Linked DNA regions of Homo sapiens: regions 1, 3 and 4 are each linked to region 2. The links come from fine-mapping of genetic effects on gene expression. A gene starts in region 2. Each other region holds a variant in brackets. All regions are shown on one strand. Distances are between the middles of the regions.

Region 1 (2,500 bases), 52 kb after region 2:
CTCCTTTGCCCAGGCTGGAGTGCACTGGCGCTATCATAGTTCATTGCAGCTTTGAACTCCTGGGCTCAAGCCATCTTCCTGCATCAGCCTCCTGAGTAGCTGGGACTACAGATGCATGCCACCACATCTGGCTAACATTTTTATTTTTTGTAGGATCAGGGTCTCGCTATGCTGCCCAGGCTGATCTCAAAGTCCTGGTCTCAAGCAATTCTCTCACCTTGGCCTCCAAAGTGTTGGGATTACAGGTGTGAGCCACCATGCCAGGCCCCAATATTTATTTATTTTTGAGATGGAGTGTCGCTCTGTTGCCCAGGCTGGAGTCCAGTGGCACGATCTCAGCTCACTGCAACCTCCACCTTCCAGGTTCAAGCCATTCTCCTGCCTCAGCCTCCCAAGTAGCTGGGATTACAGGCGCCCGCCACTACGCGGGGCTATTTTTGTATTTTTAGTAGAGATGAGATTTCATGTTGTTAGCCAGGCTGGTCTCAAACTCCTGACCTCAAGTGATCTGCCTGCCTCGGCCTCCCAAAGTGCTGGGATTACAGGTGTGAGCCAGCATGCAAGGCCATGCCCCGATATTTTTGATATGCCTTCTATTGCATTCTACAAGTGGCTCTAGGCCAGGGGCAGTGGCTCATGCCAGTAATCCCAAAACTTTGGGAAGCTGAGGCAGCAGGATCGCTTGAGGCCAGGAGCTCAGGCCTCTACAAAAATTTATTTTATTTATTTTTCTGAGACAGGGTCTCACTCTATCACCCAGGCTGAAGTACAGTGGTTTGATCACGGCTCACTGCAGTCTCAACCTCCCGGGTTCAAGCAATCCTCCTGCCTCAGCCTCCCAAGTAGATGAGACTAGAGACTATAGGCATGCACCATCACACCCAGCTAATTTTTAAATTTTTTTGTAGAGACAAGGTTTCACCATGTTGCCAAGGCTGGTCTCAAACTCCTAGGCTCAAGTGATCTGCCCTCCTCGGCCTCCCAAAGTGCTGGGATTACAGGCATGAGCCACCATGCCCAGCCTCTACA[AT/A]TTTTTTTTTTTTTTTTGAGACAGAGTTTTCCTCTGCAGCCCAGGCTGGAGTGCAACAGTGTGATCTTGGCTCACTGCAACCTCTGCCTCTCCAACTCAAGCAATTCTCATGCCTCAGCCTCCTGAGTAGCTGGGATTACAGGCATGTACCACTATGCCCAGCTAATTTTTATATTTTTAGTAGAGATGGGGTTTCACCATGTTGGCCAGGCTGGTCTCGAACTCCTGGCCTCAAGTGATCTCCCTGCCTCGGCCTCCCAAAGTGCTGGGATTACAGGTGTGAGCCACCATGCCCCGCTCTCCCAATTTTTTTTTTTTTTTTTAATTAGCTGGGCATAGTGGTGTGCACCTATGGTCCTGGCTACTTGGGAGGCTGAGGTAGGAGGATTGCTTGAGCCAAAGAGGTCGAGGCTGGAGTGAGCTTCGTGCCACTGCAGTCCAGCCTGGGTGAGGCTGAGACCCTGTCTCAAAAACAACAATAAGAGTGGAGTGGTCTATTTTCTTTATGGAAGACCAGAACGGTAAAAGAGGAATTGGCAAGTCAGCAGTGAATTATATTACTGAGGTAATGGGTCTTAAAAGAAACAAAATAGCAAGAGTGCTTCTAGGGTTAAACTTTCCTAAGAGCAAACATGAGACAAACAAGGTGCCTGTCTTTACTAGCCAAGAATTATCATACTAGAATGCTTTCAGCTCAGTATTCCCATCCACCTGTACTCCTCTGACACTGGAGCACCATAGAAACACTCAGATAGAATTCCCACAGGTAAAGGATCCCTTCCAGCAGCTCTGCCAGGGGATATATGTCTTCAGCCATCTGAGGGAACACTTTGGAATCTCAAGAGATACGTAAGTTTATATAAAATGGGTGTTTATAAGCAACAAAACTATTTCCTCTTACCACTAACATGGGGAAATTTCCATATTGGCACATATTTATATGAAAAGCAGAGATGTTTTTCTATGAAAATCACCTTTTAAAAAAAAATTTGTCCTGACTTGTGTATTTTCCTTTGTAGTGATTACATTGCCTTCCTCCTTTTTTTTTTTGGCCCTCATATACAGAGACTATGGAAGAGAGTACCTGGATCTAGTTTATTCCAAAGACAGACAAGCAGTTTGTGCCTCCACTCCAGGATGACTAACTACAACGATTACACGTAAAAAGACAAAACAAGGCCGGGCGCGGCGGTTCACGCTTGTAATCCCAGCACTTTGGGAGGCCGAGGCAGGCGTATTACGAGGTCAGGAGATCGAGACCTTCCTGGCTAAGACGGTGAATCCCCGTCTCTACTAAAAATACAAAAAATTAGCCGGACATGGTGGCGGGCGCCTGTAGTTTCAGCTACTCGGGAGACTGAAGCAGGAGAATGGCGTGAACCCGAGAGGCGGAGCTTGCAGTGAGCTGAGATCGCGCCACTGCACTCCAGCCTGGGCGACAGAGCGAGACTCCGTCTCAAAAAAAAAAGA
Region 2 (2,744 bases):
CAACACCAGCAACTCGAGAGCTGGGAAACTCAAGGAGGAGGAAGAAAATCAAAACCACCCTACTCCCTGGGGTGAGGAAAGAACAGGAGGGGAGGAGGAGGAGTGTGCTCTGCACTTGCCTTGCTCCAGGATGGGGTGGCAGCAGAGGAATGTCACAGGTCAGCAGCCTAGGCCTCCAGCTATAAATAGTCCGGAGGGCCCGAGAGGCTCCCGCCCGTCCAGCAGGGCTGTCAGCTTCCTGTGTGGCAGCACCTGGCACACTGGCTCTGGCCAGCATTATGCTAAAACCCTGTTACTCTCCAATGAACCAGGGAGGCGGGCTCCTCTCTGCGCCTATCCCTTGAGAATTCTGTCTTACCAGTGAAGGGTGGGGCTGCCCAGATCAGGCAGCAGGAGTGAGGGGCACAGTCACCCCAGGCCTTGCTGAGCCCAGGTCTGGGTACTGAGTGTCCAGAGCTGCCTCCCCAGGAGGTTAAGGTGGGGGCAAAGGGGAAGCTTCAAGCACTTTGCCTACTTTTGTTCACTCCCCAGTGCACTGTGACTCAGGCCTTCCCATCAGGCCTATTTGTCTACCCAATAAAGCGTGTTTTTTCCAGAAACAAGAAGAGTTGGGAGAGGGAGCTTCAGTGCATGTGGCAGTGCGTGTGCTGGCGCGTATCATTGCACGTATGTTTTCCCTCTTACCGTAGGAAAAATGAAAAAAGAAATCCCTCCTCCATAATCGCAGCTACTCCAGGGGTCAGCGGCGGTGCCCACTCAGTCCCCATCCCTCTCTCTCCCCTCCCGCCAGCGCCCCCTCCCGCCCTCGCCGCAAGCTGGCCCCGGCCTTGCCGGCCCTTCTTAGGGGCTTTATCATGCCTCCTGCAAGAATAGAGATCACACACGGGACGGAAACGTTAGACTCTCATCCCTTGTGCCCATTCCTTGGTCACGGGCCAAGCTGCCGCATCCTTAGCGGTCCAGGCATCGCGGTGCCCCTCGGGCCCCTACCTGGACTAGGCCCACAGCCGGGCTCTAGGGGGCGCGCGATCCACCTCCAGAAGGCCGGCTGCGAAAATCTACCCAGCTACTGGCGACGTCACCGCACCGTAGGCTGAGGATTGGCTGACTCTGATTTAGCATCCTAAAACTTCCGGTTCCAGAGCTTGGCTCGCCAAAGACCCTCCCTCGAGGGAGAGAAACCACAGCCCCCAGAATTCAGCGGGCCTCTCCGAGAGCACGGCGCGTCTGAGGATGCGTAGTAAGGATAACGGGCCCGGAAGCCGGAAGTTCAAAGCCGGCCTCCAGCCAGAGTGACGGCCTGCGCGGACTCCCGCCTTAGTGGGCGGAGTTGTGCCGCGTCTGATGCGCAGTTCCCTTTATAGCGCGGCAAGCCGAATCCTAGAGGCTAACCCGGCAGGTGGGAGGGAGAAAGTTGCTTTCTGCACCAATAGCTGAGGCGTTCAGGGTTGTCCAGGGACGCTACCCTCACGTGTCTGGTTCCGAGTGCTGCGTTCGGCTGTGCTGGGAAGTTGCGTAGACAGTGGCCTCGAGACCCTGCCTGCCTGAGGAGGCCTCGGTTGGATGCGAAGGAGCTGCAGCATCCAGGTACGCTGCCGGCTAGGGCCGAGCAGGGGCTGCCAGTCCCACTGCCTGCGCGCCCACCTGGGCCAGTCTCCGCTTGCCGCGTCCTCCCATCCCCTAGTCTGCAGGCCTGGTGCCCTTGAATTCACCCGCTTCTGTTGCGTTGCGGACCGCGAGCTGCACTGCTTCCTGCCCAAGCCCAAGCTCCTCGCAGCAGTAGGTCAGTCTTGCTAGAGCTCAGCGCTAATCCTGTCAAACCTCGACTCCTGCCTGGCGTCTCGACCCTCCACGCTCCAACTCTGCCTCTTCCTTGCTCTATAGACCTCTGCGTCCTGATAAGTGGCTCTCCGGGGCACCCTTCGTGCATATCGGCTATCCAGCTCCACCTCTTGACCGCTTTCACTTCCTGGAATGCTCTCACTGCTCCTCTTCTCCAGGCCATCCTTCTAAAAAGACAGTTCCACTCCCACCCCGATTCCCACCCCTACACCTTTCTGCTAAGTTTTCTCAAGCCCCCACCCTGTCTTTGAGCTGTTGTCTCTGAACTCTCACAGTGCCTCTCCATGAGACCATAAGCTCCTGTATGACAGAAGCCATGTTCTTTTTAGCGGCCTCCGTAGCATGATGTACGTTATGTTATGTTATGTTATGTTATGTTATGTTATGTTATTTTGAGACAGGGTCTTGCTTTGTCGCTCAGGCTGCAGGTGTGCGCCACCACGCCCGGGTAATTTTTAAAAAAAGGTTTTTTTTTTGTTGTTGTTGTTGTTGTTTTTAAATAGAGAAAAGGTCTCCCTATGTTGCCCAACCTGGTCTCCAACTCCTGAGCTCAAGCCATCCTCCCGCCTCGGCCTCCCAAAGTGTTGGGATTACCGGCGTGAGCCACCGTACCCGGCCGATGTACTACTCTCTAAGTGCCAAACAAAAAGTAGATAAAAGATGATGGATACCTTAAAAGCCCTGAGTTGACCACTATGCAGTGTATGCATGTAACAAAATCGCACTTCTACCCATACGTTTACGCAATTTTTTTTTTTTTTTTTTGAGACGGAGTCTTGCTCTGTCGCCCAGGCTGGGGTCCCGTGGCGGGATCTCGGCTCACTACAAGCTCCGCCTTCCGGGTTCATGCCATTCTCCTGCCTCAGCCTCCAGAGTAGCTGGGACTACAGGTGCCCGCCACC
Region 3 (2,744 bases), 58 kb after region 2:
GGCACTGCATGGAACATTTTACACAGGTTATTTCACTCCTTCACCCTATAAAGTTGATCTTGTTATCCCCACTGGATAAGTAAACTGAGGTCCAGTGAGGCCAAACAACTTGCCCAAAGTTATGTAGGTAAGAAGTGGTAGCTAGTGTTAAGTCAAGTTTAATCTAAAGCTGCCTCCTTACATATTTAAGTTCGGCCTAAAGGTTTTCTGTACATTGTGAACTGTAACAAGTGGAGGTGTAAATCGAACGTAGACCACACCAGTGCCAATCACTGAATTTTGGCCAATCAAATGTAGCCAACTGTTCCAACCACGTTCAAATGAGACAAACGCTGATCTGTAACCAATCTGGTTGTTTCTGTACCTCACTTTCATTTTGCTGTCCATAAATCTTCCACCACGTGAATATGCTGGGTCTCTGTGGATATGCTGGGTCTCTCTGAATCTGCTGTGATTCAGGGGCTGCCCAATTTGAGAATCATACATTGCTCAAACTCCTTTAGGCTGGGCACGGTGGCTCACGCCTGTAATCCTAGCACTTTGGGAGGCCGAGGCAGGCGGATCACAGGTCAGGAGATCGAGACCATCCTGGCTAACATGGTGAAACTCCGTCTCTACTAAAAATACAAAAATTAGCTGGGCGTGGTGGTGCGTGTCTGTAGTCCCAGTTACTTGGGAAGCTGAGGCAAGAGAATCGCTTGAACCCAGGAGGCGGAGGTTGCAGTGAGCTGAGATAGCACCACTGCACTCTATCCTGGGCAACGGAGTGAGACTTTGTCTTGGAAAGAAAAAACAAAACAAACAAACAAACAAAAAACTCCTTTAAATTTGGCTGTTTTGTTTGTTTGCATGTTTTTTTGTGAGAAGGAGTCTCACACCCAGGCTGGAGCGCAGTGGTGCCATTTCTGCTCACTGCAACCTCCACCTCTGGGTTCAAGAGATCCTCCCTTCTCAGCCTCCCGAGTAGCTGGGACTACAGACACGTGCCACCACACCCGACTAATTTTTGTATTTTTTGATAGAGCCTGGGGTTTCACCATGTTGGCCAGGCTGGTCTCGAACTCCTGACTTCAAGTGATCTGCCTGTCTCAGTATCCCTGTTGGGAATGAAGTTTTTGGTGTTGCAAAAAGAAAA[G/C]AAAAGAAAACAAAACAAAAACAAAAAAACACGGGAACAAATGATCTCTCAGCAAGGAGAGCTTTACTTTCTGCAGAAAGGGTGCTGCTACTCAAAAGCTGTCTAGCCATGAGAGCACACCGAACAAAGGAGACAGAGTTATTTATAATCTGAGGTGTCTACCCTACTGCTGTGTCCATTTTCCATTGGCTGGAATAGGACCTCACATTTTACACTTTACCTGATTGGCTATTAGTTTAAAACTTTTAAAATTGGTTAAGGGGAACAGAACAAAGAAAGAAAAGGAAGTTGCCCAGGGATCATTAAGGAAGCATCACCAAATAAGGAATGGCATGCACTGTGGGCTGGGGCTTGTCTAGTTCTGTCCAGGCATGCAGGAGCAATCTAGGACAGCTGATTTGGAATACACACACACACACACACACACACACACACACACACACACATACATACACACACACACACACACACAGTGGATAGCAATCTTATAGTAAGAAATTGTGACTTTTTATAATCTTTGAAGAACTTTCCGATTTCTCACACTCCCAAAGTGCTGGGACTACAGGCGTGAGGCCACTCCGCCCAGCCTAAAGTGTTTTTTTTGTTTGTTTGTTTTGTTTTGTTTTTTGTTTTTTGTTTTTTTTTGAGACGGAGTCTCGCTCTGTCGCCCAGGCTGGAGTGCAGTGGCGGGATCTCAGCTCACTGCAAGCTCCACCTCCCGGGTTCACGCCATTCTCCTGCCTCAGCCTCCCAAGTAGCTGGGACTACAGGCGCCCGCCACTACGCCCGGCTAATTTTTTGTATTTTTAGTAGAGACAGGGTTTCACCGTTTTAGCCGGGATGGTCTCGATCTCCTGACCTCGTGATCCGCCCGCCTCGGCCTCCCAAAGTGCTGGGATTACAGGCGTGAGCCACCGCGCCCGGCTTTTTTTTTTTTTTTTTTGAAACGGAGTCTCGGTCTGTAGCCCAGGCTGGAGTGCACTGGCGGGATCTCGGCTCACTTCAGCCTCCGTCTCCTGGATTCAAGCTATTCTCTCCCCTCAGCCTCCCGAGTAGCTAGGATTACAGGCAGGCTCCACCATGCCCTGCTAATTTTTGTATTTTTAGTAGAGATTGTGTTTCGCTATGTTGGCCATGGAACTCCTGACCCAAGTGATCCACCCGCCTGGGCCTCGCAAATGGCTGGGATTACAGGCTTGAGCCACCACGCCCGGCCGAATTTTTTTTTTTTTTTTTTTTTTTTTTGAGACGGAGTCTAGCTCTGTCGCCCAGGCTGGAGAGCAGTGGCGCGATCTCGGCTCACTGCAAGCTCCGCCTTCCAGGTTCACGCCATTCTCCTGCCTCAGCCTCCCTAGTAGCTGGGACTACAGGCGCCCGCCACCACACCCGGCTAATTTTTTTGTATTTTTAGTAGAGACGGGGTTTCACTGTATTAGCAGGATGGTCTCAATCTCCTGACTTCGTAATCCGCCCACCTTGGCCTCCCAAAGTGCTGGGATTACAGGCGTGAGCCACTGCGCCCGGCCTAATTTTTGTATTTTTATGAGACGAGGTTTCACCATGTTGGCCAGGCTGGTCTTAAACTCCTGACCTCAGGTGATCCGCCCGC
Region 4 (2,727 bases), 950 kb after region 2:
TTTATTTATTTTGAGACAGAGTCTCATTCTGTTGCCCAGGCTAGAGTACAGTGGCACAGTCTTGGCTCACTGCAACCTCTGCCTCCCGGTTCAAGTGATCCTCCTACCTCAGCCTCCCAAGTAGCTGGATTACAGGTGTGCACCACCACGCCCAGCTAATTTTTTGTATTTTTAGTAGAGATGGTTTCACCATGTTTGCCAGGCTGATCTCAAACCCCTGGCCTCAAGAGATCCATCAACCCAAAGTGCCGAGACTACAGGTGTGAGCTACCGCACCCAGCATATTTATTTATTTTTCAGTCTCACTATTTTAACCAAGCTGGTCTTGAACTCCTGGCCTCAAGCAATCCTCCCATCTTGGCCTCCTAAAGTGCTGGGAATACAGCCGTGAACCACTGTGCCCGGCCTTTTTAAAAATTATTTTTTAATTAGCCAGGAGTGGTGGCACATGCCTGTAATCCCAGGTACTTGGGAGGCTGAGACATGAGAATTGCTTGAACCCAGGAGGTGGATTGCAGTGAGCCAAGATCGCACCACTGCACTCCAGCCTGGGTGATAGAGTGAGACTCTGTCTCAAAAAAAACCCAAAAAATAAAATAAAATTATTTTTTATTTTTGTAGAGACAGGGTCTCACTATGTTGCCCAGGCTGGTCTTGAACTCCTGGGCTCAAGTGATCCTCCCGCCTTGGCCTTTCAAAGTGTTGGGATTACAGGCATGAGCCACTGCGCCCAGCTCCTCACCTCATTTCTGTGTCTTTTTTCTCAAGAAACTTAGCTAGGGGGAAGGAATTGCCCACAGAAATTTTGGTTTGTATTTCTTTTCTTCTGGCACTTCAGAAAGCAAGGATACTGCAGTTTAGACCTACTATTTTAGCTTATATAGGACTCTTTGCTTTTGTCATCTTGTCCATCACTAGTTTTCAAATTGCCATGAGGAAAGGCTTCATGTGGGAATGAGATTGTAACTTTTTTTTTTTTTTTTGAGACAGAGTCTCGCTCTGTTGCCCAGGCTGGAGTGCAGTGGCATGATCTTGGCTCACTGCAACCTCCGCCTCCCAGGTTCCAGTGATTCTCCTGCCTCAGCCTCCCGAGTAGCTGGGACTGCAGGTGCATGCCACCACGCCTGGCTAATTTTTGTATTTTTTAGTAGAGATGGTGTTTCACCATATTGGCCAGGCTGGTCTCCAACTCCTGACCTCGTGATCCGCCTACCTCGGCCTCCCAAAGTGCTGGGATTACAGGCACGAGCCACCGTGCCCGGTGAGATTGTAACTTATTTAAAGGAGATTTAGGATTGTTTGTGGATTTCCATTTCCTTGGCATAATCATTCTATGATTATTAAGGACCATTTCTGTTCTGAGTGGTATAGGCTTGTTATCTCCGTGGCCTGAATTCTACGCATATTGGTGAAGATAGGTGTCGAACTTGGCTGGGAGAATGGCTGCAGATTTCCTGCAGCCTGAAAGGTAAAACACATTTCTGTGGTTATACCACTAAAATCCAAGTCACTTTTGTATTTTATTCTGAGGTCATTTTGGAGTTAATTATTGAGTACTGTGAGACATATATATACATACATCTAATTGAAAGGGCACAAACTCACATGCCTACTGCATGCCCGGCAGGTAACGAAGTAGGCCATAAGACAAGAGGGAGTAGTGGGGACTGTGGAAACCTAAGAGTGAATGCATGCTAGTGTGAATTTTCCAACCTTGGCACTTCCTTATGGGGGGAATATCCTGTG[C/CTTTA]TTTATTTATTTATTTATTTATTTATTTTGAGACGGGGTTTCGCTCTTGTTGCCCAGGCTGGAGTGCAATGGTGCGATCTCGGCTCACCGTAACCTCTGCCTCCTGGGTTCAAGTGATTCTCCTGTCTCAGCCTCCCAAGTAGCTGGGATTACAGGCATGCACCACCACGCCCAGCTAATTTCGTATTTTTTTTTAGTAGAGACCAGGTTTCTCCATGTTGGTCAGGCTGATCTCGAACTCCCGACCTCAGGTGATCCGCTGGCCTCGGCCTCCCAAAGTTTTGGGATCACTGGCGTGAGCCACCATGTCCAGCCTATCCTGTTCTTTATAGGTATTTATTATAGCAGTATCCCTAGCCTCTACCCACTAGATGCCAGTAGCACCCCTTCACCCACAGTTGTCTCAACCAAAAATGTCTCTAGACATTGCCAAATGTCCTAGGGGTGGGGAGGAGAGAGGCAGGATTGTCCCCGTTGAGAAGTACTGGTCTAAAGGCATTCAAACTCAGAAAAAAAACAGTCTGCTGACCAAACACAAAGCATCTGAGGGTATGTATTAGGCTTGTTTGCCCCCTGTTTAGGCTAGGTCTTGATGTTTTGTGGGCCTTTGGATGTTAGGGTAGGCCTACTAATCTTGAAGCTGAGAAATGTCCCTAGAGCACCAACTTCTACCAGAAGAATCCCAACGCGACTGGTGTTTAGTACCATTACCATCTCTGAATTTTCTACTGCAATCACATGAGAAATAGAGGATGAGTTGATACGAATATATAGTAGAAGGAAAGGAAGGCATGCATACAGGGGCTGAAACAAAGAAGGGGAACTTTGAGAAAAACAGCTTCTTCATTCCACCCCTCCCTGCACTTGGCTTCCTGCCTCCAGGCTTAAGCCATATATAACAAGGCAGTTATAAGGCAGTGTTCCCAAGCCAAACCACTAACACTGTGTTTTCAGAAGCTGAGCTGTCTCTCTTGCTGCACA

Direction of the effects. Positions count from the first base shown, and alleles are read on the strand shown. Sizes are in standard deviations (SD) of each study's normalised expression. Not every link is listed here.
For the expression in prefrontal cortex of the gene that starts at base 1,522 in region 2, AT is the high allele of the variant in region 1 and A is the other (small effect, 0.25 SD a copy in BrainSeq).

Evidence for each region. PIP is the estimated chance that this variant, and not a neighbour inherited with it, causes the effect.
Region 1: its variant is fine-mapped to the expression of COX14 in prefrontal cortex (BrainSeq, PIP 0.94).
Region 3: its variant is fine-mapped to the expression of COX14 in whole blood (TOPMed, PIP above 0.99).
Region 4: its variant is fine-mapped to the expression of COX14 in lymphoblastoid cells (GTEx, PIP 0.98).

What each region holds. Positions count from the first base shown.
Region 1 is chr12:50,162,931-50,165,430 of GRCh38, forward strand. The region is part of intron 1 of CERS5 (ceramide synthase 5); the gene reads right to left. LOC124902931 (a long non-coding RNA gene) reads left to right here. Exons shown (of 2, transcript XR_007063304.1): 2 at 2,096-2,500. Among named protein-coding and RNA genes, the nearest start is that of CERS5, 3.2 kb to the right of the region's middle. The variant AT/A (reference allele first, on the strand shown) is at 1,030.
Region 2 is chr12:50,110,715-50,113,458 of GRCh38, forward strand. COX14 (cytochrome c oxidase assembly factor COX14) reads left to right here and starts at 1,522. Exons shown (of 2, transcript NM_032901.4): 1 at 1,522-1,587. GPD1 (glycerol-3-phosphate dehydrogenase 1) reads left to right here. Exons shown (of 8, transcript NM_005276.4): 8 at 1-599. RefSeq lists enhancers at 962-1,011, 1,072-1,331, 1,552-1,791, 1,802-1,851.
Region 3 is chr12:50,169,027-50,171,770 of GRCh38, forward strand. No RefSeq gene overlaps it. Among named protein-coding and RNA genes, the nearest start is that of CERS5, 3.0 kb to the left of the region's middle. The variant G/C (reference allele first, on the strand shown) is at 1,136.
Region 4 is chr12:51,056,661-51,059,387 of GRCh38, forward strand. It overlaps LETMD1 (LETM1 domain containing 1), which reads left to right. Exons shown (of 9, transcript NM_015416.5): 8 at 1,372-1,468; 9 at 2,701-2,727. Among named protein-coding and RNA genes, the nearest start is that of LETMD1, 9.7 kb to the left of the region's middle. The variant C/CTTTA (reference allele first, on the strand shown) is at 1,747.